7 linked regions of the Homo sapiens genome follow. The protein of the gene in region 1 purifies or fractionates together with the protein of each later gene. This does not show direct contact. Each region holds a gene or a part of one and is shown in the gene's direction. Other genes may lie near its edges.

The links.
Region 2: the proteins of EFEMP1 (region 1) and ZSCAN21 purify together in Homo sapiens (affinity purification with mass spectrometry; 2 studies listed by BioGRID and IntAct, with this or other methods). This does not show direct contact.
Region 3: the proteins of EFEMP1 (region 1) and ZNF791 purify together in Homo sapiens (affinity purification with mass spectrometry; 2 studies listed by BioGRID and IntAct, with this or other methods). This does not show direct contact.
Region 4: the proteins of EFEMP1 (region 1) and ZNF627 purify together in Homo sapiens (affinity purification with mass spectrometry; 2 studies listed by BioGRID and IntAct, with this or other methods). This does not show direct contact.
Region 5: the proteins of EFEMP1 (region 1) and ZNF747 purify together in Homo sapiens (affinity purification with mass spectrometry; 2 studies listed by BioGRID and IntAct, with this or other methods). This does not show direct contact.
Region 6: the proteins of EFEMP1 (region 1) and ZNF460 purify together in Homo sapiens (affinity purification with mass spectrometry; 2 studies listed by BioGRID and IntAct, with this or other methods). This does not show direct contact.
Region 7: the proteins of EFEMP1 (region 1) and ZNF768 purify together in Homo sapiens (affinity purification with mass spectrometry; 2 studies listed by BioGRID and IntAct, with this or other methods). This does not show direct contact.

What each region holds. Positions count from the first base shown.
Region 1 is NC_000002.12:55,878,783-55,882,282, reverse strand, and holds part of EFEMP1 (EGF-containing fibulin-like extracellular matrix protein 1 precursor), read left to right. Parts: intron 1-548; coding exon 549-671; intron 672-3,500. UniProt on the Homo sapiens protein: Binds EGFR, the EGF receptor, inducing EGFR autophosphorylation and the activation of downstream signaling pathways. May play a role in cell adhesion and migration. May function as a negative regulator of chondrocyte differentiation.
Region 2 is NC_000007.14:100,052,774-100,056,273, forward strand, and holds part of ZSCAN21 (zinc finger and SCAN domain-containing protein 21), read left to right. Parts: intron 1-3,500. UniProt on the Homo sapiens protein: Strong transcriptional activator. Plays an important role in spermatogenesis; essential for the progression of meiotic prophase I in spermatocytes.
Region 3 is NC_000019.10:12,624,420-12,627,919, forward strand, and holds part of ZNF791 (zinc finger protein 791), read left to right. Parts: intron 1-230; coding exon 231-291; intron 292-3,301; coding exon 3,302-3,500. UniProt on the Homo sapiens protein: May be involved in transcriptional regulation.
Region 4 is NC_000019.10:11,603,983-11,607,482, forward strand, and holds part of ZNF627 (zinc finger protein 627), read left to right. Parts: intron 1-227; exon of another isoform or gene 228-382; intron 383-3,500. UniProt on the Homo sapiens protein: May be involved in transcriptional regulation.
Region 5 is NC_000016.10:30,532,059-30,536,059, reverse strand, and holds the start of ZNF747 (zinc finger protein 747), read left to right. Parts: upstream 1-1,201; 5' UTR 1,202-1,380; coding exon 1,381-1,609; coding exon of another isoform or gene 1,610-1,749; coding exon 1,750-1,863; intron 1,864-2,908; coding exon 2,909-3,561; 3' UTR 3,562-4,001.
Region 6 is NC_000019.10:57,286,985-57,290,484, forward strand, and holds part of ZNF460 (zinc finger protein 460), read left to right. Parts: intron 1-3,500. UniProt on the Homo sapiens protein: May be involved in transcriptional regulation.
Region 7 is NC_000016.10:30,523,767-30,527,990, reverse strand, and holds ZNF768 (zinc finger protein 768), read left to right. Parts: upstream 1-1,424; 5' UTR 1,425-1,577; coding exon 1,578-1,665; intron 1,666-1,939; coding exon 1,940-3,474; 3' UTR 3,475-3,987; downstream 3,988-4,224. UniProt on the Homo sapiens protein: Binds to mammalian-wide interspersed repeat (MIRs) sequences in euchromatin and promoter regions of genes at the consensus sequence 5'-GCTGTGTG-[N20]-CCTCTCTG-3', consisting of two anchor regions connected by a linker region; the linker region probably does not contribute to the binding specificity.

The sequences.
Region 1 (3,500 bases):
CTACAGGGAACGTATAATATTAAAGGTTGATTACACCCAGTTATTGGTTAGATTTTTAGAAATTTGTCAATGGAAATTATCTCAAATACAATATATTGGATGGAAAAGCAAGTATCATACAATCTATTAAAATTTTTAACATACAAAACAATACCATATGTTCTAATGGATGCATCCCTGTCTAACAAAAGTACAAAAACATCTCAGGGAAGGATTCATTCCTACCGAGACAGTGGTAGCTGATGGGTCAAGGGATGAGGATGGTGTGAGGCTTTAGCTGTATCTGAAATGTTTCTTAACAAAACAAAATGAGCCAAGACCAACATGACAAAATGTTAGCATTTGTTAAATCTGAGCAGTACTCACTGGTATTTGCAAAATTATTTTCTGAACACTTGAAATAATTTATAATTTTAAACATTTCCAATGCAAGAACATTATAAACTTTTAAGAATAAAGTAAAAATTTAGCTTAAGAAGTGGCAAAATGGAGGAAATATCAACATCTTCACAACTGACAATTCTTTCTGTGTTGCATGTCTCTGACAGACATAGACGAGTGCACTGCAGGGACGCACAACTGTAGAGCAGACCAAGTGTGCATCAATTTACGGGGATCCTTTGCATGTCAGTGCCCTCCTGGATATCAGAAGCGAGGGGAGCAGTGCGTAGGTAAGTACCACAGTGCAGTGAGCACGGTCCTGTCTTGAGTACCTTAACTGTTTCAACCTCAAGCATTCCAATCAAAGCATTCATGTTTCTTTGGAGAGTGGTAGCCAATAATTCCTTATTTTTTTATAGACTACCAATCCATTTTCCACAATAACAAGAAACAACCTTAAAGGTTGAGCTATTCTGGATAACAAAGTGTTGGTTAAATGTTAGACGAAGCAAGAGCAGAAATTTGGGGTATGAATGGGACAATAAAAACAACCACAAAAAAATTTAAATTTGCTGTTTTGGGGGCCATCGCGCTAACACACTGGTACTGTGGGCTTCATTCACCATTCACTGCTGCAGAGCATAGCATAGCACAGCACATAGAGCAAATGGTGGAGTTGCATTCCAAGCACCAACCCCAGCTCGCTTTGAGACCTTGAGCAAGTTACTTAAATCCTGTGTCTCACTATGTTCACTTGTACTGTGGAGATGATACTAGGCCCTACCTCCAGAGCTCATGTAGGGAATGCTTAGAATAGTGCCTGTCCCTGTGCAGTAAAGCTGTTTGCTATCGTTGTATTCTGAGTCAACAGATGGGTATTAAAGGCTCTTTATACTGCAAGCCTTTGTAGGGTACCATGAGTACAAAGCCAAGTTCAGCACGTGCCTCTGCTGGAGGGCCTAAGAGCGTGAGCTCCCTGACAGCAAGACCAGGTCATCTTGTGTCACTGTGGTCTCCCCAGTCCCTGAAGTGTGCCCACCATGTGATGGAGGCTCTATGCGTGTGTTTTGAGTGAATGGAAGATCAAAGTATGAGGAAGCCAACTGGCAGATAGTGAAGTAAAATACAGTACTCTGGGCTCAATCATGAGGCCCAGCACTAGGCATGAAACTCTGACTGTCCATTTATTTACATACCCCTTCTTACCACAGATCAGTGAAAAAGCCTTATTTCCTCTTAGGAACAGAGGGTGAGGATGTGGGGACAGACAACCAGCGTCAGTTTTCGCCTGAGAATGTGAGCTGTTGATGTTCACATGTCAACACTGAGTTCCATGTGGGCCCCAGCCCAGTTCTGTCTGCCATAGGGCTGTGCCTAGATGCTGGGGTTAGTGCCCAGCCTCTGAGGAAGGCCCAGGGTTTGCTATAAATGAAGCTGTGATTTAAAAGAAGAGTGTGTAGAAAACTCCAGAGATAACAAAGTTTGGCCATTGTATTAGACAGGAAAATAAATATTTGAGGGCATAAAAAGTACAGAAAAAAGAACTAATCCAACTTAGTGTGGGGTGAATCAAAGATAATGGAACATACGGTCACAGCCCTTTTAATGTGGTAGGAGGAAATATTCCTAAACTCAGATCTAATCATGTGTCTTCCCCTCCTGCTTCCCTCACTGAGAGAATCAAGTCTACATTCCTCGACAGAGCATGAAAGGTCTTGCTCAATCTGATCATTGTCCAGTTCTGTTGCATAAACACCTCTCCCCCACCACAAAATATTACACCCCAGCTTTATTCCACCAGTTCCCCACACACGTCACACAGTGTTACTTACACTTTGGTGCCTCTATACAAGCTCTTTACACAACAAAAACATTCCCTCCTGGCAAATTCTTATTTCACTGTCAAATCCTAGCTTAGGATCACTTCCTCTGGGAAGCCTGCTATGATTTACCCAAATATAATTAGTTGCTCCTCCCCTGTGCCAGTACTTCTCAAATTATGATGAAGGATACTTTTTTGTAAATTTCCAATCTACGGCAGACCAATACTTCTGTAAAGCACAATAAAAATAATGTTGCACTAATGTCAAATTGCTATTTCTAAACATGTACTCTCAGTTTCTGTATTTATTCATTGCAGACTGGTCCAAATAGCCCATGAACCAGCAGCAGTCAGCAGGCCACACTTCAAGTAGCATGGTGCTCCCTGTGTCCCATACACTCCTTTCTATTGTTGATCTTCTCATTCCATGGAATAATTTGTTTCATGCCTGTCTTTCATACCAGACAAGGCAGAACACATGTATACTGATTATCATTATAAACTTGGGGTGCCAAACACAGTACCAGCAAATAAGAATGGTTCAATGAATGTTTATTAGTTAAGAAGACATGCGTCACATATTCACCAAATAGTTATTGAGGGCTTACTGTGTAACAAGCATTGTTCTAGGAACTGGGATAATAGTAAACAAATTTTACAAATTCATAGCCCTCGTGGAGCTATTAGAAAGTATAATACCATTCATACAAATTAGCTATCAATACTAGCACCTGATGATAGTACTGAGGACTAGGAAGCACTATGCTAAAATTGCTCTTAATTAGTGTGAAGTTTCGATTTATTCGAATAATGTTTATTGAACACCTACTACTATGCCAGGCCCTATTCCAGATCTAACAATGAACAGACAAAAAACCCTCTACCTCCACCTCAAGGGGAGAATGTCATGCACTATAGTGAGGGAACACACAAGAAGCAAATAAACACATAACACAATGTCGAGTACTGTTAAGGACTACAAAGAAGTCTAAAGCAAGGTAAGGGAATAGATAGGGCAGAAGAACCTATTTGATATTGGTGGGAAAGGTGGCCACCCTGAGGAGGTGACATTTGAATGGACACCTGAACCAAAGTAAGGGGAAAAGCCATGTGAATATCTTCTTACTATTTATTTCAGTATTCAAGTTAAATCAAATATATCTTGCAGCTTATTAGCTCCCATTTATGTTTACTTGCTTTGTGCCAGTAACTTTGCCTACATTATGTCTTGTAACCCTCCCAATAATTCTACTCACAGAAGAGGAAATGCAAGCTCGAGAAGTTAAGACCAAGCTAG
Region 2 (3,500 bases), on another chromosome or scaffold:
ACCCGGCCCTCTACTCGTTTGTAGTCTTTATGCATTGTACATTTGAGTTGTGTGCACCGCAAAACTGATGTACCACCGGGCGTGGTGGCTCACGCCTGTAATCCCAGCACTCTGCGAGGCCGAGGTGGGCAGATCACTTGAGGTCAGGAGTTCAAGACCAGCCTGGCCAACATGGTGAAACCCCATCTCTACTAAAAATATAAAAATTAGCCGGGCATGGCACGCACCTGTAATCCCACCTACTCAGGAGGCTGAGGCATGAGAATAACTTGAACTCGGGAGGCGAAGGTTGCAGTGAGCCAAGATCATGGCACTGCACTCCAGCCTGGGCAACGGAGTGAGACTCCATCTCAAAAAAAAAAAAAAAAAGAACTGATGTGCCTAGAATAAATCACTTAGCTAATGAGCTTACCCAGCCAACTGCCCAGCAGCAACATCCAAGGAAACTTTTTTTTCTGTAATTTGCAGAGGCAATCATGTGATCCAGTGGCATCTGTGAATTTGGATTCACCAAGTTCTCAGAGTGTATCGCACATGAATGTTATGTTACTACATGACGCTCCCTGTGTGATGCCAGCAGGTGCTGCATGACTCCCTGGTGAATTGCCTTGTTTCCCAGGCCAGATCACAGAAGCTGAGCAGCCCAAACAATGGTTTCTTTCCTGGTCTTAGGGTGCCCTCCTCTGGATAGAGTATTAAATTTTGTAACAGTTACGTAAAGTTAATCTGCCACTGAGGAGGGCTCTTACATACATACATACATACATACATAATTTTTTTTTTTTTTTTTTTTTTGCAACAGAGTCTTACTCTGTTACCCAGGCTGGAGTGTAGTGACAGGATCTTGGCTCACTACAACCTCCACCTCCCAGGTTCAAGTGATTCCCTGCCTCAGCCTCCCAAGTAGCTGGGATTACAGGTGCCTGCCACCACTCCCAGCTAATTTTTGTATTTTTAGTGGAGACTGTAACTTGTAATTTTATGGCAACTATATTTTTTTAGGTTTAACATGTGGCCCTAAAGAACCAGAAACCGAAAGGAACCAGTATTCCTGCCCCACAGAGTCCCATCTTTAGTGAGGCTATTTCTGGAGTTTATATGATGACCAAGATACTAGGTATGGCCCCAGTTCACCATGTTGGCCAGGCTGGTCTCAACTCCTGGCCTCAAGTGATCCGCCTGCCTTGGCCTCCAGAAGTGCTGGGATTACGGCCGTTAGCCACCACGCCCGGCCAGTCGTTTTAAATATTCTAAAGAATGCTCTCCAGCACAGCTACCTCATTATTTCTTGTTTATTTTAGTCTTTGGTGCTCAGGCCTTTGTTTTAGTAGGTGAGATGACGTTGCATCTCCCCTGACTCAATTTTTAAGTAGTCCTCAACTTGGGCACTCCTGTGGTATGTACTGAGTACATACAGACTTATTTGGCCAAAGAATCCTTTATTCAAATTATTGGTTATAGTGTGTTTTGTTTTTTGTTTTTTGTTTTTTTTTTGCAACGGAGTCTCACTCTGTTGCCCAGGCTGGAGTGCAGTGGCACAATCTCGGCTCACTGCAACCTCTGCCTCCCACGTTCAAGCTATTCTCATGTCTCAGCCTCCCATGTAGTTGGGATCACAGGTGCCTGTCACCACGCCCGGCTAATTTTTGTATTTTTAGTAGAGACGGGGTTTTGCCATGTTGGTCAGGTTGGTCTCGAACTCCTGACCTCAGGTGATCCACCTGCCTCGGTCTCCCAAAGTGCTGGGATTACAGGCGTGAGTCACCGCACCCCGCCTTAGTTATAGTGCTTTTGAACAAATTTTGGGAAATAATTCTGTATGCATTTTTTTCCGTGCCTTACAGTTTCCCTTTTCATGCTTTGGTTTGCTTCCTGATGTCTTAATTCCACTGCTAAACACTCCACCAACATTTCTTTTGGTGGAGCGTGGTGGTGCGTGCCTGTAGTCCCAGCTACTCAGGAGGCTGAGGCAGGAGAATCGCTTGAACCCGGGAGGCGGAGGTTGCAGTGAGCCGAGATCACGCCACTGTACTCTAGCCGGGGCAGCAGAGTGAGACGCTGTCTCAAAAAAAAAAAAAAAAAAAAAGACTAATCAAAGCCTTAATTTCATAACTATGAACCGTGTTTACAGAATGTTAGCACTAAAGTCCATTTTGTTTGTCAGAAAACTACTTATGATCTCTCTTTTTTTTTTTTTTTTGAGACTGAGTCTTGATCTGTCACCCAGGCTGGAGTGCAGTGGTGCAATCTTGGCTCACTGCATCCTTCCCCTCCCAGGTTAAAGCGATTCTCCTGCCTCAGCCTCCTGACTAGCTGGGATTACAGGTGTGCAACACCACACCCGCCTAATTTTTGTATTTTTAGTAGAGACAGGGTTTCACCATGTTGGCCAGGCTGGTCTCGAACTCCTGACCTCAAGTGATCCGCCCGCCTTGGCCTCTCAAAGTGCTGGGATTACAGATGTGAGCCACTGCACCTGGCACTTCAGTTTGTTTTGTTTTTATTTTTTGAGACAGAGTTTTGCTCTGTCACCCAGGCTGGAGTGCAGTGGCGCGATCTCGGCTCATTGCAACCTCTGCCTCCCATGTTCAGGGGATTCTTGTGTGCCTCAGCCTCCCAAATAGCTGAGATTACAGGTGCACACCACCATGCCCAGCTAATTTTTGTATTTTTAGTAGAGACAGGATTTCACCATGTTGGCCAGGCTGGTCTCAAGTCCAGGCCTGCCTCGGACTCCCAGAGTGCTGGGATTACAGGCATGAGCCACTGCGCCCGACCTCAGTTATTTTTAATGTACTAGTTAATTACACCCTTCGAGCATGACTCAGGTCATACTGACAGGCCCAGTCATTTGACTAGTGAATTTTCCTTTTTTTTTTTTTTTTGAGACAGAGTCTCGCTCTGTCACCCAGGCTGGAGTGCAGTGGCGCGATCTCTGTTCACTGCAAGCTCCACGTCCCTGGTTCAGGCCATTCTCCTGCCTCAGCCTCCCGAATAGCTGGACTACAGGCGCCTGCAACCACGCCCGGCTAACTTTTTTTTGTATTTTTAGTAGAAACAGGGTTTCACCATGTTAGCCAGGATGGTCTCGATCTCCTGACCTCGTGATCCGCCCGCCTTGGCCTCCCAAAGTGCTGGGATTACAGGCGTGAGCCACCGCGCCCGGCCCTCCTCTTTTTTTTTTTTAGACGGAGTCTCGCTCTGTCGCCCAGGCTGGAGTGCAGTGGCACAATCTCAGCTCACTGCAAGCTCCGTCTCCCGGGTTCACACCATTCTCCTGCTCAGCCTCCCAAGTAGCTGGGACTACAGGCACCCGCCACCACGCCTGGCTAATTTTTTGTATTTTTAGTAGAGATGAGGTTTCACCGTGTTAGCCAGGATGGTCTCGATCTCCTGACCTCGTGATCCGCCCACCTCAGCACCTCCCAAAGTGCTGGGATTACAGGCGTGAGCCACCATGCCTGGCCTTGACTAGTGAATTTTCATTGCTCAAGCTAAAT
Region 3 (3,500 bases), on another chromosome or scaffold:
GGGGATTACAGGCATGAGCCACCGCACCCCAGTGACATCATTTTTTCATATCGTCAGTTAGAGAACTGCCATTTCTTGCTCATAATCACTGTTCCGAGATTTGGAATCTGAAAAGGAAACACTTCTGTAAATAAACCAGGCATGGTTACAGCTCATTGTGAACCTATAATCTAATAATATTTGTATAATTTTTAATAATTTATCATGATTATTCTTGATCTACATTTTAGGGGAAAAATGGGAAGACCCGAATGTTGAAGATCAACACAAAAACCAAGGACGAAATCTAAGGTGAGTTGCACTCACAAGAAGTAACAGTGTTCCTTGAAAGAATCTTAAAAATGTTATGGCCGGGCACGGTGGCTCACACCTGTAATCTCAGCACTTTGAGAGGCTGAGGTGGGTGGATCATGAGGTCAGGAGTTCAAGACCAGCCTGGCCAACATGATGAAACCCCGTCTCTACTAAAAATACAAAAAAAGTTAGCCAGTTGTGGTGGTGGGCGCCTGTAATCCCAGCTACTCTGGAGGCTGAGGCAGAGAATTACTTGAATCCAGGAGGCAGAGGTTGCAGCGAGCCGAGATCGCGCCACTGCACTCCAGCCTGGGCAACAGAGCGAGACTCTGTCTCAAAAAAAAAAAGAAGTTGTGACACTTTTAAAACAAGAAGCAAGCTTAGCTCCAAATTTATTTATTTATTTGTTTTATTTATTTTTTCTTGAGATGAGGTTTTGCTCTGTCACTCAGGCTGGAGTGCAGTGGCATGGTCTTTGCTCACTGCAACCTCCACCTCCCGGGATCAAGTGATTTTCCTGCCTCAGCCTCCCAAGTAGCTGGGATTACAGGGACGTGCCACCACACCTGGCTAATTTTTGTATTTTTAGTAGAGACAGGGTTTCTCCATGTTGGCAAGGCTGGTCTCAAACTCCTGACCTCAGGTGATCTGCCCGCCTCAGCCTTCCAAAGTGCTGGGATTACAGGCACGAGCCACTGGGCCCCAAATTTATTTATTATCAGAAAATGTTTACCAAAAATGTTTTCTCAAGTGACACAGATGTCCACTGGCTGAAAAATATTATACTTGGGCCGGGCACTGTGCCTCACGCTTATAATCCCAGCACTTTGGGAAGGTGAGGTGGGCGGATCACCAGAGGTCAGGAGATCAAGACCAGTCTGGCCAACACAGTGAAAACCTGTCTCTACTAAAAATACAAAAATTAGCCGGGTGTGGTGGCACACACCTGTCATCCCAGCTACTCAGGAGGCTGAGGCAGGAGAATCACTTGAACCTGGGAGGCAGAGGTTGCAGTGAGCCCAGATCGCACCACTACACTCCAGCCTGGGCGACAGAGTGAGACTCCATCTCAAAAAAAAAAAAAAAGAAGAAGAAGAAGAAAGAAAAATATTGTACTTGGGAACAGTTTTGTTTGTTTGTTTGTTTTGTGAAACAGAGTCTCGCTCTGTCACCCAGGCTGGAGTGGAGTGGTATGATCTTGGCTCACTGCAACCTCTAACCCCTGGGTTCAAGCAATTCTTCTGCCTCAGCCTCCCAAGTAGCTGGGATTATAAGCGCGCACTACTATACTGGGTTAATTTTTGTTTTGTTTTGTTTTTTTTGAGACGGAGTCTCGCTCTGTCACCAGGCTAGAGTGCTGTGGCGCAATCTCGGCTCACTGCAACCTCCCACTCCCTGGTTCAAGGGATTCTTCTGCCTCCGCCTCCCAGGTAGCTGGGATTACAGGCATGCATCACCATGCCCGGCTAATTTTTGTGTTTTTAGTAGAGATAGGGTTTCACTATGTTGGCCAGGATGGTCACGATCTCCTGACCTCGTGATCTGCCCACCTCGGCCTCCCAAAGTGCTGGGATTACAGGCGTGAGCCACCATGCCCAGCCAATTTTTGTATTTTTTAGTAGAGATGGGGTTTCACTATGTTGGCCTGGATGGTCTCGATCTCCTGACCTCGTGATCTGCCCGCCTCGGCCTCCCAAAGTGCTGGGATTACAGGGGTGAGCCACCATGCCCAGCCAATTTTGTATTTTTTAGTAGAGATGGGGTTTCACCATGTTGGCCAGGCTGGTCTCAAACTCCTGACCCCAATTGATCCACCCACCTCGGCCTCCCAAAGTGCTAGGACTACAGGCATGAGCCACCATGCCAAGGTGTGGAAACAGTATTTTATTTTATTTTTATTTTTATTTTTGAGACGAAGTCTTGCTCTGTCACCCAGGCTGGAGTGCAGTGGTGCCATCTCAGCTCACTGCAAGCTCCGCCTCCCAGGTTCACGCCATTCTCCTGCCTCAGCCTCCCGAGTAGCTGGGACTACAGGCGCCCACCACCACGCCCGGCTAATTTTTTTGTATTTTTAGTAGAGACGGGGTTTCACCCTGTTAGCCAGGGTGGTCTTGATCTCCTGACCTCATGATCTGCCCGTCTCGGCCTCCCAAAGTGCTGGGATTACAGGCGTGAGCCACTGTGCCCGCCCAGAAACAGTACTTTAAAGCCTCACATATAATTTCCGGAAGCCAAGGTGAGCAGATCATTTGAGCTCAGGAGTTCGAAACCAGCCTGGGCAACAAGACGAGACCCTGTCTCTACAAGAAACAGAAAATTCAGTCAGTTGTGGTGGTGCATGCCTGTAGTCCCAGCTACATGGGAGGCTGAGGTGGGAGGATTGATTGAGCCCGGGAGGTCAAGGCTGCAGTGAGCCATGATTGCATCACTGTACTCCAGTGCGGGTGACAGAGTGAGACTCTGTCTCAAAATGAAACCAAAAAAAAAAAAACCCATACCTCAATATTACTGTTTTGATAATAGCTATCAGTGACACAAGCCCTCTTGCAGAACATTGAGTATATTCGTTTTTAAACAAGTCAGACGGGGCAGAAAACTATTTCCCTGAAAATGATAAAAATTTAGTTCTGCTGCCGGGTGCGGTGGCTCACGCCTGTAATCCCAGCACTTTGGGAGGCCAAGGCGGGCAGATCACTTGAGGTCAGGAGTTCAAGACCAGCCTGACCAGCATGGTGAAACCACGGCTTTACTAAAAATACAAAATTAGCTGGGCGTGGTGGCGCATGCCTGTAATCCCAGCTACTTGGGAGGCCGAGGTAGGAGAATTGCTTGAAGCTGGGAGGTGGAGGTTGCAGTGAGCTGAGATCGCACCATTGCACTCCAGCCTGGGGAACAAGAACAAGACTCCGTCTCAAAAAAGAAAAAAGAACTTTAGTTCTACTACCCGATAATACATATAAAATCATTAATACACAACCAGTATTACCGTGCTTCTAATTTTTTACAGAAGCCATACGGGAGAGAGACTCTGTGAAGGTAAAGAAGGTAGTCAATGTGCAGAAAACTTCAGTCCCAATCTCAGTGTGACGAAGAAGACTGCCGGAGTAAAACCATATGAGTGTACTATCTGTGGAAAAGCCTTCATGCGTCTCTCATCCCTTACTAGACACATGAGGTCTCACACTGGATACGAGCTATTTGAGAAG
Region 4 (3,500 bases), on another chromosome or scaffold:
TTTTTTGGTAGATGGGGGTCTCACTATGTTGTCCAGGCTGATCTCTAACTCCTGGCTCAAGTGATTCTCCCATCCTGGCCTCCCAAAGTACGTAAATATGATATCATATATATCATATAATTGATGAACCAATATATCATATATGATGATGATCAGAATTGGTGAGCCAATATGTTACTAACTAAAGTTTACACTTCATCAAAATTGGTAATTTTTGTTCTTCAAAGGACACCAAGAACTTGAAAAGATAATTCACCAAGTGGAAGAACGACTTGCAAATCCTGTGTCTGGTGGGGCATCTTATCCAGAAGCAGCCTGAGTCTCAGTCCCCTCCATCACACTCCATCAGGGTGGGGGCTGAATTGGCAGCCAGGACTCCCAGGTATCCTGTCCCATCACTGTAGGAGGCAGTCTACCTCCTGGACCTCTCTCTGGGCAGTTGTGCACCTGCAATCCTGGATCTCACCCAGATCATGGGGTGACAACAGGGAGTGGCCATCCAGAGAGAAATCTGAGCCTGGTGTTTTGGGTTTGTGGGTGGGAGGTACTCTCAGGACACCCTCCCCCTCCATGGATTCAGACTTGGGTGGGCCCAGCAGAATGGCATGTGTGGTTCCCAGCTCCTTCATCCCCAGTGGGAGGGAGCCTGTCATCCCCTATGCATTTCAGATAAATGAACCAGGGTCTCAAGTTTACAGCCTTGTTCCCTGTTAAAGAGAGATTGCACTGGAAACTTGTTAAGAATGTCAAGGAAAAGTTTATTAAGCACAATTGCAGTGAGTCATGACAGCTGTAATAGGGGAGGGAGATTGAATTCAGCCTTGAATGCAGCAGGAATATTATTGGATTTATAGCCAATGTACAAGGTGAGGGAGAGAATGGAACTTGGTTGGGTCTCATAGGTGGGAGAAAAAGAACTTGATTGGATATTAAGGTAGGAGGAGTCTCTATAAACTACCTTAGATGGATTCTTGCTGAAACTGACTTCTGCAGGCCAGTGCCAAGCCCTAGTCAAAAAGAGGGCTCTGAGGAGCTTGACTCAAGTTTGGTGAAGGAAGGAGTACTTGAGACCTCTTCAGCCTAGTTTTTCTTTCTTTCTTTTTTTTTTTTTTTTTTTTTGAGATGGAGTCTTGCTCTGTCACCCAGGCTGGAGTGCAGTGGTGCGATCATGGCTCACTGCAACCTCTGCCTCCCAGGTTCAAGCAATTCTCTGCCTCAGCCTCCCAAGTAGCTGGGGTTACAGGTGCCCACCACCAGGCCTGACTAATTTTTTTTTGTATTTTTAGTAGAGACAAGGTTTCACCATCTTGGCCAGGGTGGTCTTGAACTCCTGACCTCATGAGCCACCGTGCCCAGCCTCTTCAGCCTAGTTTTTCCCAGGGCTCTGTATTAGTCTGTTTTCATGCTGCTAATAAAGACATACCCAAGACTGGGTAATTTATAAAGGAAAGAGATTTCATTGACAGGTCAGTATGGCTGGGGAGGCCTCAGGAAACTTACAAGTATGGTGGAAGGGAAGCAAACATGTCCTTCTTCACATGGCAGCAGCAAGGAGAAGTGCAGACTAAAGGTGGGGGAAAGGTGGGGGAAGCCCATTATAAAACCAGATCTCATGAGAACTCACTATTATGAGAACAACATGGAGGTAACCACCCCAATGATTAAATTATCTCCCACTTGCTCTCTCCCATGACATTCAGGGATTATGGGAACTACAAGAGGAGATTTGGGTGGGGACACAGCCAAACCATATCATTCCACCCCCAGCCCCTCCCAAATCTCATATCCTCACATTTTAAAACAATCATGCCCTCCCAACAGTCCCCCAAAGTCTTAAATCATTCCAGCATTAACTCAAAAGTACAAGTCCAAACTCATCTGAGACAAGGCAAGTCCCTTCTGCCTATGAGCCTGTAAAATCAAAAACAAGTTAGCTACTTCCTAGATACAGTCATTGGGTAAATATACCCATTCCAAATGGGAGAAATTGGCCAAAACAAAGGGGCTAGAGGCCCTATGCAAGTCCCAAATCCAGTAGGGCAGTAATTAAATCTTAAAGCTTTGACATAATCTCCTTGGCCAGGCGCGGTGGCTCACACCTGTAATCCCAGCACTTTGGGAGGCCGAGGCAAGCGGATCATGAGGTCAGGAGATCAAGACCATCCTGGCTAACATGGTGAAACCCTGTCTGTATTAAAAATACAAAAAATTAGGCATGGTGGCACGCGCCTGTAATCCCAGCTACTCGGGAGGCTGAGGCAGGAGAATTGCTTGATCCCAGAAGGCGGAGGTTCCAGTGAGCCGAGATCATGCCACTGCACTCCAGTCTGGGTGATAGAGCCAGACTCTGTCTCAAAAAAAAAAAAGAAAGAAAAAAAGAATCTCCTTTGACTCCACGTCTCACATCCAGGTCATGCTGATGCAAGAGGTGGGCTCCCTCAACCTTGGGCACCTCTGCCCCTGTGGCTTTGCAAGGTACAGCCCCCACTCCTGGCTGCTTTCACAGCTGGCACTGAGTGTCTGTGGCTTTTCCAGGTGCGTGGTGCAAACTGTCAGTGGATTGACCATTCTGGGGTTCTTGAGGACGGATGGTGGCCCTCTCCTCACAGCTCTACTAGGCAGTGCCACAGTGGGGACTCTCTGTGGGGGCTCCAGTTCCCACATTTCTCTTCTGCGCTGCCCTAGCAGAGGTTCTCCATGAGGGCTCCGCCCCTGTAGCACACCTCTGCCTGGACACCCAGGCGTTTTTGTACATCTTCTGAAATCTCGGCAGAGGTTCCCAAACCTCAATTCTTGTCTTCTGTGCACCCACAGGACCAACACCACATGGCAGCTGCTGTGGCTTGGGGCTTGCACCCTCCGAAGCCATGACCCGAATTGTACCTTGCCTCCTTTTAGCAATGGCTGGAGTGGCTGGGCACAGGGAACCAAGTCCCTAGGGTGCATACAGCAAGGGGCCCTGGACCAGGCCCAGGAAACCAACCATTTTTTCCTTTTAGGATTCTAGGCCTGTGATGGGAGGGGCTGCCATGAAGGTCTGTGATGTGTCCTGGAGACATTTTCTCCATTGTCTTGGTGATTAACATTTGGCTTCTCGTTACTCACAAATTTCTGTAGCTGGTTTGAATTTCTCCCCAGAAAATGGGTTTTTCTTTTCTTTTCTTTTTTTTTGAGACAGAGTTTCACTCTTGTTGCCCAGGCTGGAGTGCAATGGCGCAATCTTGGCTCACTACAACCTCCACCTCCCAGGATCAAGCGATTCTCCTGCCTCAGCCTCCCGAGTAGCTGGGATTACAGGCATGTGCCACCACGGCCAGCTAATTCTATATATTTAGTAGAGAAGGGGTTTCTCTATGTTGCTCAGGCTGCTCTCAAACTCCTGACCTCAGGTTATCCGCCTGCCTCAGCCTCCCAAGGTGCTGGATTACAGGCATGAGCCACCACGCCTGGCTGGGTTTTTTTTTCTGTTCCATTGTCAGGCTGCAATTTTTCCAAACTTT
Region 5 (4,001 bases), on another chromosome or scaffold:
GAGCACAGAGTAGGCCATCAGGAAGTGTGAGAAGGAGGTCTCAGGGGAGAGCTGGCGACTTTTACTGAGATAAAGACCCCAGGGGAAGCAGGTTGGGGTAAGAAAGGGATGAGCTGGGTTTGAGCCTAGGAGCCTTGGGCCATCCGCGCAGGGGCAGGACGTCAGGGAAGCCAAGAGCCTGGCTGCAGCTAGAGGGAGACAGGCGGTCGGGAGGCGTCCTGCACAGCACATGGGAGAAGCTCCTAGAAGAGAGGGCCCTCTGACTTTCTCAGCCTTACCCTATTCTCCCCGCTGCTTCCGCCATCTAGAAGCTCCCAGAATTTCAAGCTCCAAAAAGCCTACAATAGAGGAGGTTCTCCTGTATCCACTCCATGGCTTTTGTGAAAGGAAAATAAATCTTGGGACCCCCCCAAATCACTACGCTAAAGGAAAAAGTCAAGCTGGGAATTGCTTAGGGCCAACCTGCCTCCCAGTCTATTCAAAGTCACCCCTTTGCTGGCTGACACAGATGCATATCTGATTGCCTCCTTTGGAAACGCTAATCAGAATCTCAAAAGAATGCAACCGTTTGTGCCTCACCTTCTGTTTCTTGGAAGCCCCCTTCCTGCTTCACGTCTTCCTGCCTTTGCTTCAAGTTGCCCCGCCTTTCCAAACAGAACCAATGTACTTCTTACATACATTTATTGATGTCTCATGTCTCCATAAAATGTATAAAACTAAGCTATGCCCAGACCACCTTGGGCACATGTCGTGAGGACTTCCTGAGGCTGTCACGCGCGCGTCCTCAACCTTGGCAAGTAATTGAGATCTGTCTCGGAATTTCTGGGTTCACACTTTTTGCTCTCAACATTGGGAAGAGGCTGCTGTCGCCGTTTCTGAGGACAAAACGAGACAGTGATGGGCTGAAGTCCGATTATAAAAAGGTCCAGAGACGAAAACTAACTTCTGAGTTCACGAGGGCTGCCTTCCGCAGGGCGCTGCTTTGTTCCCGCAAACCCGGGCGGAAGCTCTGAGCTGCGCCGCCTCACCTGGCGGGGCCGGAGCATGCGCGGCTGGTTTTCAAGGCCGGCGCCTGTAGCCGCAACGGCCATTTTGGATTAGGGCAAGGAGAGAACTGGGCCTGGAGCGGGGGCGCGGGGAGGGGGGCGTCGTCGTGGGTACAATTGCGCAGGGGCAAAGGTCGAGAGGTCGCGCTGCCGCCGTTTTATTTGAAGACATCGTCCAGTTCTGACCATGGACTCGCAGCCATCGGCCCTTAGTTTCCATCCCCTCTAGTGGGCCTTCGGGGGCTCTACTGACGTCCCTCCTTCCCTTGGTACCGGGCCGGGGAAGTGTTCTCGGGCGCGGGAGGTTCCGCATGCCCAGGCCTGGCCAGGGGAGATGACCGATCCGTCGCTGGGGCTGACAGTCCCCATGGCGCCGCCTCTGGCCCCGCTCCCTCCCCGGGACCCAAACGGGGCGGGATCCGAGTGGAGAAAGCCCGGGGCCGTGAGCTTCGCCGACGTGGCCGTGTACTTCTCCCGGGAGGAGTGGGGCTGCCTGCGGCCCGCGCAGAGGGCCCTGTACCGGGACGTGATGCGGGAGACCTACGGCCACCTGGGCGCGCTCGGTGAGAGCCCCACCTGCTTGCCTGGGCCCTGCGCCTCCACAGGCCCTGCCGCGCCTCTGGGAGCTGCGTGTGGAGTTGGGGGCCCCGGGGCCGGGCAGGCGGCCTCCTCGCAGCGTGGGGTTTGCGTTCTTCTCCCCCAGGAGTCGGAGGCAGCAAGCCGGCGCTCATCTCCTGGGTGGAGGAGAAGGCCGAACTGTGGGATCCGGCTGCCCAGGATCCGGAGGTGGCGAAGTGTCCGACAGAAGCGGACCCAGGTGGAGTATCGGGTGCTCAGTCCCATGGGGACTTCTCTGTTCCTGTCCCATCCCGGTACCCTCTGCCACCTCCAGCTACCTGCTTAGCAGTTTCCTCTCTGAACTGCCTCCTCAACTGCGGCCAGGAGGCTGAGCCCCTGCCTGGCTCCGGGATGCAGCCTAGAAAGGGGCTGTGATGGGGGCTCTGGCCCTGCCATACCCGCCCCTGAGTCCTCACCTCTGCGTGGTCACTACACTCCGGGGACTTTTTTGTTTTGTTTTGTTTTAGAGACAGGGTCTCTGTTGCCCAGGCTGAGGTGCAGTGGCGCCATCATAGCTCACTGCAGTCTTGAACTCCCGGGCTCAAGCAATCGGCTCAACCAATCCTCCCGCGTGGGCCTCCAGAGTACCTAACACTGTAAAGGCACTCGCCACCACGCCTGGCTGGTTTTTTTTTTTTTTTTTTAATTAAAAAAATTTTAAAGAGGTAGAGGTCTTGGTGTGTTGCCCGAGCTGGTCTCGAACTCTAGCGATCCTCTATCTCGGCCTCCCAAAGCACTGGGATTACAGGCATGAGCCACTGCACCCGGCCTCTAGGTTCTGTTGACTCTACCTCCACATCATGACCCGCTCCAGTCGTTTTCCTGCACTATGGTTCCTATGCCCCCACATCCCGCCCTCCCATTTCCTTCCTTTAGTTCTTGCCTCAGCTTTTGCAGAGTATCCAGCCCCACTGAACTTGGCCATGCCCTCCTGGTTCTGCCTTTCTTGGTGCTGTTCCTTCTGCCTGGAATATCCCCAGGTGTCCGCTTCTTATTCCAGATCAGGCCCAGATGTTCACGTCATCTCTGCCCTTCCCCCGCGGTGACATTTCCCCAGCCCGGAGGCGGAATGGACTGTTCCCTCCCTCCAGGCTCTGTCTGGCTCTGCAGCCGAGGAACAGGTGTCACTCCTCCATCTCCTAGGAGCAGTCGGGGGTCCAGCAGGCCTGTCCCTGTCCACGCGGGCTGTGGGATTCAATGACCAGGATGAGCCAAGCCTGAACTCTCGCCTCCTTATCTTTCAGCAGATTCCAGAAACAAGGAAGAGGAAAGACAAAGGGAAGGGACGGGAGCCCTGGAGAAGCCCGACCCTGTGGCCGCCGGGTCTCCTGGGCTGAAGGCTCCCCAAGCCCCCTTTGCCGGGTTGGAGCAGCTGTCCAAGGCCCGGCGCCGGAGTCGCCCCCGCTTTTTTGCCCACCCCCCTGTCCCCCGAGCTGACCAGCGTCACGGCTGCTACGTGTGCGGGAAGAGCTTCGCCTGGCGCTCCACACTGGTGGAGCACATTTACAGCCACAGGGGCGAGAAGCCCTTCCACTGCGCAGACTGCGGCAAGGGCTTCGGCCACGCTTCCTCCCTGAGCAAACACCGGGCCATCCATCGTGGGGAGCGGCCCCACCGCTGTCCCGAGTGTGGTCGGGCCTTCATGCGCCGCACGGCGCTGACTTCTCACCTGCGCGTTCACACTGGCGAGAAGCCCTACCGCTGCCCGCAGTGTGGCCGCTGCTTCGGCCTGAAGACCGGCATGGCCAAGCACCAATGGGTCCATCGGCCCGGGGGCGAGGGGCGTAGGGGCCGGCGCCCTGGGGGGCTGTCTGTGACCCTGACTCCTGTCCGCGGGGACCTGGACCCGCCTGTGGGCTTCCAGCTGTATCCAGAGATATTCCAGGAATGTGGGTGACGGCCTAAAAAGTGACCATCTAGACATTGTGGGCGGCCCGAGATGGGCTCAGGGGCCCGAACCTCTGCAGCGGCCTGCAGGGAGGTCCCAGAATCCACCGCAAGAGCTGGCCTGGGGTGCGGACAGTCTGATCTTGGGCTCTCAGCAGCCTCTTCTGCCAGCACCTTGCTCCCCGCTGCCCTGGGCTCTCCAAGGCCCCCTTTGCTGAGGCAGGGCTGAGGTGAGAACCCCCCAGACCTCCATACAGGGAAGCAAAAGCTGTTTCTCCTCCCAGAGATGCTAAGAGGATTGAGGTAGAGAAGAACCTTGTTTTCTCTGTTGTCTTTTTCTTTTTACTTTTTTAATTTTTTGAGACGGAGTTTTGCTCTTGTTGCCCAGGCTGGAGTGCAATGGTGCGATCTCGACTCACTGCAACTTCCACCTCCTGGAGTCAAGCGATT
Region 6 (3,500 bases), on another chromosome or scaffold:
CCACTCACTGAATTTTTGCTTATGTATAAACCCAAGTAACTACCACCTACATCAATACATAGGCTATCTCCAGCTCCTCATCAGGGTTTTATGCCCTCGATAGCTTCTTTGATTCTATTAGCTCATATTTAGACTTCATCAGCACAGATTGGTTGGCTGTTGTTGAACTGCACAGTGTGCTCTCTGACATATCTGTCTTCTTTTGATCATCATGTCTGTGTTATTCTTTTGAGGTGTTTATATACAGTCGGAGTTGGTTCATTCTCAATATGTTGTAGTTTCTCATTGTATGTGAAACTGCCATCCATTTGTCCATTACCCTGCTGATGGATGTTCCTGTTGTTTTCAGGTTTTGGATATGTTGCTGAGAGTATTATTGTTCATATTTTCTGGTGGATGTAAATACTGATTTCTGAATTGTGTGTTAACAGTAAATTCTGTTAGAATATACTCGTGTGTACATATCAGGTCATGGAGTAGGTTGTATATTCAGCTTTCTTTTTTTCTTTATTATTTTTTGTAGAAATGGAGTCTCACTATGTTGCCCAGGCTCATCTTGAACTCCTGGCCTGCACTGATCTTCCCTCCTTGGCCTCCTAAAGTGCTGGGATTATAGGCATGAGCCACACTGTGTGGGTGTGTTCAGCTTTAAAAGAAACTGCCCAGCAGTTCTGCAGAATGTACCATTTCACTTTCTGACCATGGACATGTGAAAGTTTCCATTGCTCCACATCTTCATAATCACTTGATAACATCATTCCCCTTTGGGAGGTCTAGGCGGGCGGATCACTTGAGGTCAGGAGTTATCAGCCTGGCCATCATGGTGAAACCCCATTTCTACTAAAAATTTAAAAATTAGCTAGGTGTGGTGGCAGGTGCCTATCATCTGAGCTACTCAGGAGGCTGAGGTAGGAGAATTGCTTGAACCTGGGAGGTGGAGGTTGCAGTGAGCCAAGATCACACCACTGTACTCCAGACTGGACGACAGAGCGAGACCCCATCTCAAAAAAACAAACAAACAAAAAAAACCATCATTTCATTTTACTGTTTGAGTCCCTGTGGTAGGTTTCTCTATATCACAGCACAGAAACCATTGTAAGGTCACTCCTTTCATTCCTAATTTTCAAATACAACAGTGACCATAATGATAACTGATGATGGCCCACAATTTACCGATCTCTTATGTAGTGTCTAGCACTGTGCCAAGTGCTTTATAGAAATTTTCCCCTTTTTTAAGAGACAGGGTCTTCCTCTGTCGCCCAGGCTGGAGCGCAGTGGCACCATCATAGCTCACTGTAGCCTCAAACTCCTGGGCTCAAGCAGTTCTCCTACAGAGTAGCTGGAACTACAGGCTCATGCTACAACGTCCGGCTAATTTATTAATTTTTTTGTAGAGATGGGATATTGCTATATTGCCCAGGCTACTCTTGAACTCTGGGCCTCAAGCAATTCTTCTGCCTTAGTCTCCCAAATGTAACGGGATTACAGGCATGAGCCACCGTGCCCAGCCAAGAATTTTCCTATTTAACCCTCATCACAGCCTATGAAACAGAATCTGAGAGTTTCTGTTTTTCAGATGAGGAAGTGGAGACTAGGATCAACTAAATCATTTCTCTGGCATCAGCTGACTTGGTACAGGCAAGATTTGAACTGAGATGTTCTGACTCCAGAGCTACACTCTTAACCTCCCTTCAATATGAACTCACGATTCAGCACAGAGTTTTCATATTTTGTGCTTGAGCATTGGGCCGTCTTAGATTCTCTTTCTCTGTTCTCACTGGGCTTTGGTTCTCTTTTTACTCTGATCTTCACTTTTATGTTGGCTTCATCAGTTATCTCATAGCCCATCCTTTTTACTCTTACATACTCTCCAAGGCTAATCCACACATTCTTTTTATTTATTATTATTACTTTTTTTTTTTTTTTAAGAGATGGATCTGGCTATGTTGCCCAGGCTGGTCTCGAACTCCTGGGCTCAGCTTCCCGAGTAGCCAGGATTACAGGCAGTACCTTTCAGATTGTGTCTTTTTCTAGTATTTTCAGGTTATTGTTTCTCAGGGTTGTATTGAATTTCTGGATCAGTTTTTAGAGAATTGATAATTTTATATTATCAATTTCTTCATTCAGTTAGATCTTTATTGTCTTGAAATAAAGTTTTATTATTTTCTTTTTCAAGATCCAGTTGTTTGTTAGCCTTTTCGCCTACCTTTCACCTTGACAGTGGATTCTATATGTCTACCAGGATTCTGTTCACCCTCTGTCCTAGGAGCTCTGTCCTAAGAGTAGCTGTGGCCATCACTAGCTGTCCCTCAGGCAGAATCTTGAGCATCAGCTTCGTCTCCGCCCCTTCCTGTCTCTGAATCCTGATCAACCTTAACTTCTTATGGGGCTGCCTCCTCTCACTGCAGTCCTCTGGATTCGCTGAAGACTCTGTGTCTTTGTATATTCTATGTCCTAAGGCTAATATGTCCTTCTAACTTTAAGCTCATGAAGCATCCTCTCTGGGAAGCCTCCTTGACCTCTTCCTGTCCCTGCCCCTTCTAGGCTACATTAAGTGCCCCTTCCCTGGCCTCTTGTAGCTCCTTGACATGTTCTTGAGCAAGCTTATGATAGAGTGTCATCATTATGATGTCCACCTAGTCTCATCTTGACTGTGAGTGGGGATCTCTATTCCAGACCATCTGTACTCTGCTTGAGCTTCTCCCTCTGGGTTTCTCTTTAAAAATTTCAAGAGTTGGCCAGGCACGGTGGGTCACGCCTGTAATCCCAGCACTTTGGAGGCAGAGGTGGGCGGATTACTTGAGCCCAGGAGTTCGAGACCAGCTTGGGCAACATGGTGAAACCCCATCTCTATTTTAAAAATACAAAAAATTTAGCCAGGCGGGGTGGCTCACACCTGTAATTCTAGCATTTTGGAAGGCCGAGGCAGGCAGATCACCTGAGTTCAGGGGTTCTAGACCAGTCTGGCCAACATGGTGAGACCTCATCTGTAAAAATACAAAAAAATTAGCCCAGCATGGTGGCGCACACCTGTAATCCCAGCCACTTGGGAGGCTGATTCAGGAGAATTGCTTGAACCCAGGAGGCAGAAGTTGCAGTGAGCTGAGATCATGCCACTGCACTCCAGCCTAGGCAACAGAGTGAAATTCCATCTAAAAAAAAATAAACAAAAAAAAGCCAAGCGTGGTAGCATATGCCTGTAGTCCAGCTACCTTGGAAGCTGAGGTGGGCAGATCCCGGGTGATCCGCCTCAGCCTCCCAAACCAAAGTGCTGGGATTACAGGCATGAGCCACCATGCCTGGCCTTTTTTTGAGATGGGTTTCCCTCTGTCACCTAGGCTGGAGTGCGGTGGCTCAGTCTTGACTCACTGCAGCCTCCACCTCCCAGGTTCAAGCGATTCTCCTGTCTCAGCCTCCCCAGTCGCTGGGATTATAGCCGCCCGCCACCATGCCTGGCTAATTTTTGTATTTTTAGTAGATATGGGGTTTCACCATGTTGG
Region 7 (4,224 bases), on another chromosome or scaffold:
TCACTTCCTCAATTCAAAGCTGCGCCCGAGGCAGTGTTTCTCAGGTTCCCTTCCTCTGCAAGACTCCATTCGAGTCAGACAAGACTGGAGAGTTGTTAGATGCCTCGAAGGCCAGATGGTTCTCTCAGTCCAATTCTCCTTTGTATCACCCTCACCTGGAAGGAATCCTGCCTCCCTGTGAGGAAATCTAACAACAGGGACTAAGGCTGCCAGGGATTGAGTTAAACTCAGGCGCTGGGGAAGGTGGAGGGGAGAGGCAAGGGGTGTGAGGCTGACGAGGAGGAAGGGTGTCTGTCCTCAGATCTTCTGGCTTTCATAAAACATAATGGAGGCTAAGTGGGGGCGGGAAAAGTTTTGATGGCACAGGCCGGGCTGGAGGGGAGATGCCTGGCACCTCCCTCCCACTACCTCCTGAAGGCGCTTCTGGCCGACAGGGGAGGCGGACCCGACCACAGCACTCCCGGCCAATCAGGAAGGCGCCTGGCGTTCCCTGGCGACCATTAACGCCCAGCCGTCCGCGGGGTTGGAGGAGGCGGGGCGGCTAGAGCACGAGCCCCATCGGCCAACCGCCGGGCTTCCTGGGGCGGAGAAGCTGTGCCTCTGGGAGCCGGGGCGGGGCTGTCTCCTTGGCAACTATCCTAGCCCTCGAGGAGGGAGGAGGGAGGAGGAGGATCAGGGGAGCCGAGCTGGGTGGGGGCCGGAGGAACGGGAGCGGGCGCGCGCAGGTGCCGGGGAGCGGAGTTCCTGGAGGGGGTCCCAGGCTCAAGGACCTCGGCGAGGCCAAGGGGAGTCCGTCCCGGTTCCCGAGGCGCTGCCGGAGCTGACCCGGAGGCCCGGGAGGGGAGGGAGCGAGACACCGCCCCCGCTGGCGCCGGGAAGCGTCGCTCCTTCTCGCTGACCTTGGTCTCGCTTGTCGCCTCGCCCTTGGCCACACGCACCGACGACGCGGGGCCCGGGAGATGGACAGACGGGCCTCTGGAGGGACGGAGACCTAGAACATAGGCACACACACTGCCCCGGTAGCCCCGCGGGCTCCGGGGCGTCCGGTCCTCACCCACCCCGTGGCCGGGCCCCTCCAGCCCAGGGTTAATGCCAACGAGTTTCCACCTCCAGCGGCTCCTAGAGAGGCCGCGGCGCGAGCCGGCGGGGGGACCTGGCCGCGGACGGACACTTCCTGTGCGGGGGAGGGTGGGGGGGTGCTGGGCGGCCGTTGGACAGTGCAGCCCAGCCCGGGGCCGGGGTCCAGAAGGTGGGGGCTCGGGCGGGAGCGGGGGCCGGGGGCCGCCGGGGTAGTCGCGAAGCCCCTCATCCCCGAGGCCGCGACGCGCGGGGGCCAGTGAGGGCCACGGGGAGGCCGAGACCTTGGGAGGGGGCGGGGCCGCGGGCAGGGGAGGGGCCCGGCGCGCTGGAGAGGCGCGGGGTCAAGACGTCCGGCCTCGGGGGCCCGGGCTGGGCCGCCGAGTCCCCTGGGCGGCGCTGAGCGGGCGGGAGGCGGGGGCCCGCGGCTCGGGGCAACCGAGGCCGGGTCGCGGGATCGGCCGCCATCGCCGCCGCCGCTGCACTGGGAGCCCGCGGGGATGGAGCGGGAGGCGTTGCCGTGGGGCCTCGAGCCCCAGGATGTGCAGAGTTCTGACGAAATGAGGAGCCCCGAAGGGTACCTCAGAGGTGAGGAGGGAGCGCCCGTCCGAGGAGTGGACTTGCGCGCAGGAGAAGGGGCTGTGGCTCCAGGGAGGGAGCGAGGGCCCGGGGCTGGGACACCTGGGACTCGAAGGAGGGGCCGGCGGGGACTGGGGTGTCTTGGGTCAGCTGAGGGGGGCGTGGGAATTTCAGCACTTGTCTAGGGGCCAGCGACCCTGCATGTGAGGTGGGAGGTGTGTGGTTGCTAATGGACCAAATGACCTTCCAGGTCTCACACGATCTGGATTCTCTCATCCTGCAGGCAACATGAGTGAGAATGAGGAAGAGGAAATTTCTCAGCAAGAAGGCAGTGGGGACTATGAAGTCGAAGAGATACCATTTGGGCTTGAACCCCAGAGCCCTGGGTTTGAGCCACAAAGCCCAGAGTTTGAACCCCAAAGCCCCAGATTTGAGCCTGAAAGCCCGGGGTTTGAGTCCCGAAGCCCTGGGCTTGTGCCCCCAAGCCCTGAGTTTGCACCCAGAAGCCCTGAATCAGATTCTCAGAGCCCTGAGTTTGAATCCCAGAGCCCTAGGTATGAACCCCAAAGCCCTGGCTATGAACCTCGGAGCCCCGGGTATGAACCCCGGAGCCCTGGCTATGAATCTGAGAGCTCTAGATATGAATCCCAGAACACTGAGCTCAAAACCCAAAGCCCAGAATTTGAAGCTCAAAGTTCCAAATTCCAGGAAGGTGCGGAGATGCTTCTGAACCCCGAGGAAAAGAGTCCTTTGAATATCTCCGTAGGAGTTCACCCCCTGGACTCCTTCACTCAGGGGTTTGGGGAGCAGCCCACAGGGGACCTGCCCATAGGGCCACCTTTTGAGATGCCCACAGGGGCCCTGCTGTCTACACCGCAGTTTGAGATGCTTCAGAATCCCCTGGGTCTCACAGGAGCCCTTCGAGGTCCAGGTCGGCGGGGTGGCCGGGCCAGGGGTGGGCAGGGCCCTCGGCCTAACATCTGTGGCATCTGCGGGAAGAGCTTCGGGCGGGGCTCCACCCTGATCCAGCACCAGCGCATCCACACCGGTGAGAAGCCCTACAAATGTGAGGTCTGCAGCAAGGCCTTCTCCCAGAGCTCTGACCTCATCAAACACCAGCGCACCCACACTGGCGAGCGGCCCTACAAATGTCCCCGTTGCGGCAAGGCCTTCGCCGACAGCTCTTACCTGCTTCGCCACCAGCGCACTCACTCTGGCCAGAAGCCCTACAAGTGCCCACATTGTGGCAAGGCCTTCGGCGACAGCTCCTACCTCCTGCGACACCAGCGCACCCACAGCCACGAGCGGCCCTACAGCTGCACCGAGTGCGGCAAGTGCTATAGCCAGAACTCGTCCCTGCGCAGCCATCAGAGGGTGCACACCGGTCAGAGGCCCTTCAGCTGTGGCATCTGCGGCAAGAGCTTCTCCCAGCGGTCGGCCCTTATCCCCCATGCCCGCAGCCACGCCCGGGAGAAGCCCTTCAAGTGCCCTGAGTGCGGCAAGCGCTTTGGCCAGAGCTCGGTGCTGGCCATCCACGCCCGCACCCACCTGCCAGGCCGCACCTACAGCTGCCCCGACTGCGGCAAGACCTTCAATCGCTCCTCCACTCTCATCCAGCACCAGCGCTCCCACACGGGCGAGCGGCCCTACAGGTGCGCCGTGTGCGGCAAGGGCTTCTGCCGCTCCTCCACGCTTCTGCAGCATCACCGGGTCCACAGTGGCGAGCGGCCTTACAAGTGCGATGACTGCGGAAAGGCCTTCTCCCAGAGCTCCGACCTCATCCGCCACCAGCGGACCCACGCGGCGGGCCGGCGCTGACCTGGGGCCCCAGCAGGGGTGGGAGGTGTGGGCAGAAGATAAGGGGCCAGGGAGCTAGAGGAACCTTTAGGGAGGATAGTGGAGAAGCCGCAGGAGAATGGAGGAGCTGAGGATGCTGGAAGAAGAGAACCAGGGTGGAGGAAGTGACATGCCCTGGAGACTTGTGGGAAGTGGGTTGGAGGGAGGCCAGGCCGGCAGCGGGAGGCCCTGGGAGAAATGGAGAGAGGTCAGCGGAGGGCTGGCCTCAGCCGCGGCTCCTTGGTGGGTGCCTGGCTTGGCAACTGCTAGAGCAGGGAGGGGGGAGGGCAGGGGATTACCTAATTAGAGTGGGTTAGCTTAGATTGGTAGCTGCTGAAACTCTCGTTGAGTCAGGAGCGGGTAAAAGGTAGGTGGGGTGGGGAGTGGGGCCCCGGGGTGGGGCCTGGGCCTCTGCGTGCAAACCCCAGCCTCCCTCTTCTTCCTCAGGCTTTGGAGCCCCTGAGTTTGAGTTCAATAAAAACTTTATGTGGTAAACGAGACTTGTCCTTAAAATGTGTGCGTGCACAGCGCCCTGGGAAGTGGGAGACACCAGTAGTAGCCTAGGGCCTTATCCGGGAAGTGCTTTGCTGTTGCTGCTGTTAGAAAGCGGGTCTTGCTGTGTTGCAGCAGGCCACCGCACCTGGCTGGAAGTGCTATTTGTTTCTTTTTTTTTTTTTCTTTTTTTTGAGACGGAGTCTTACGCTGTCACCCAGGCTGGAGTGCAATGGTGTG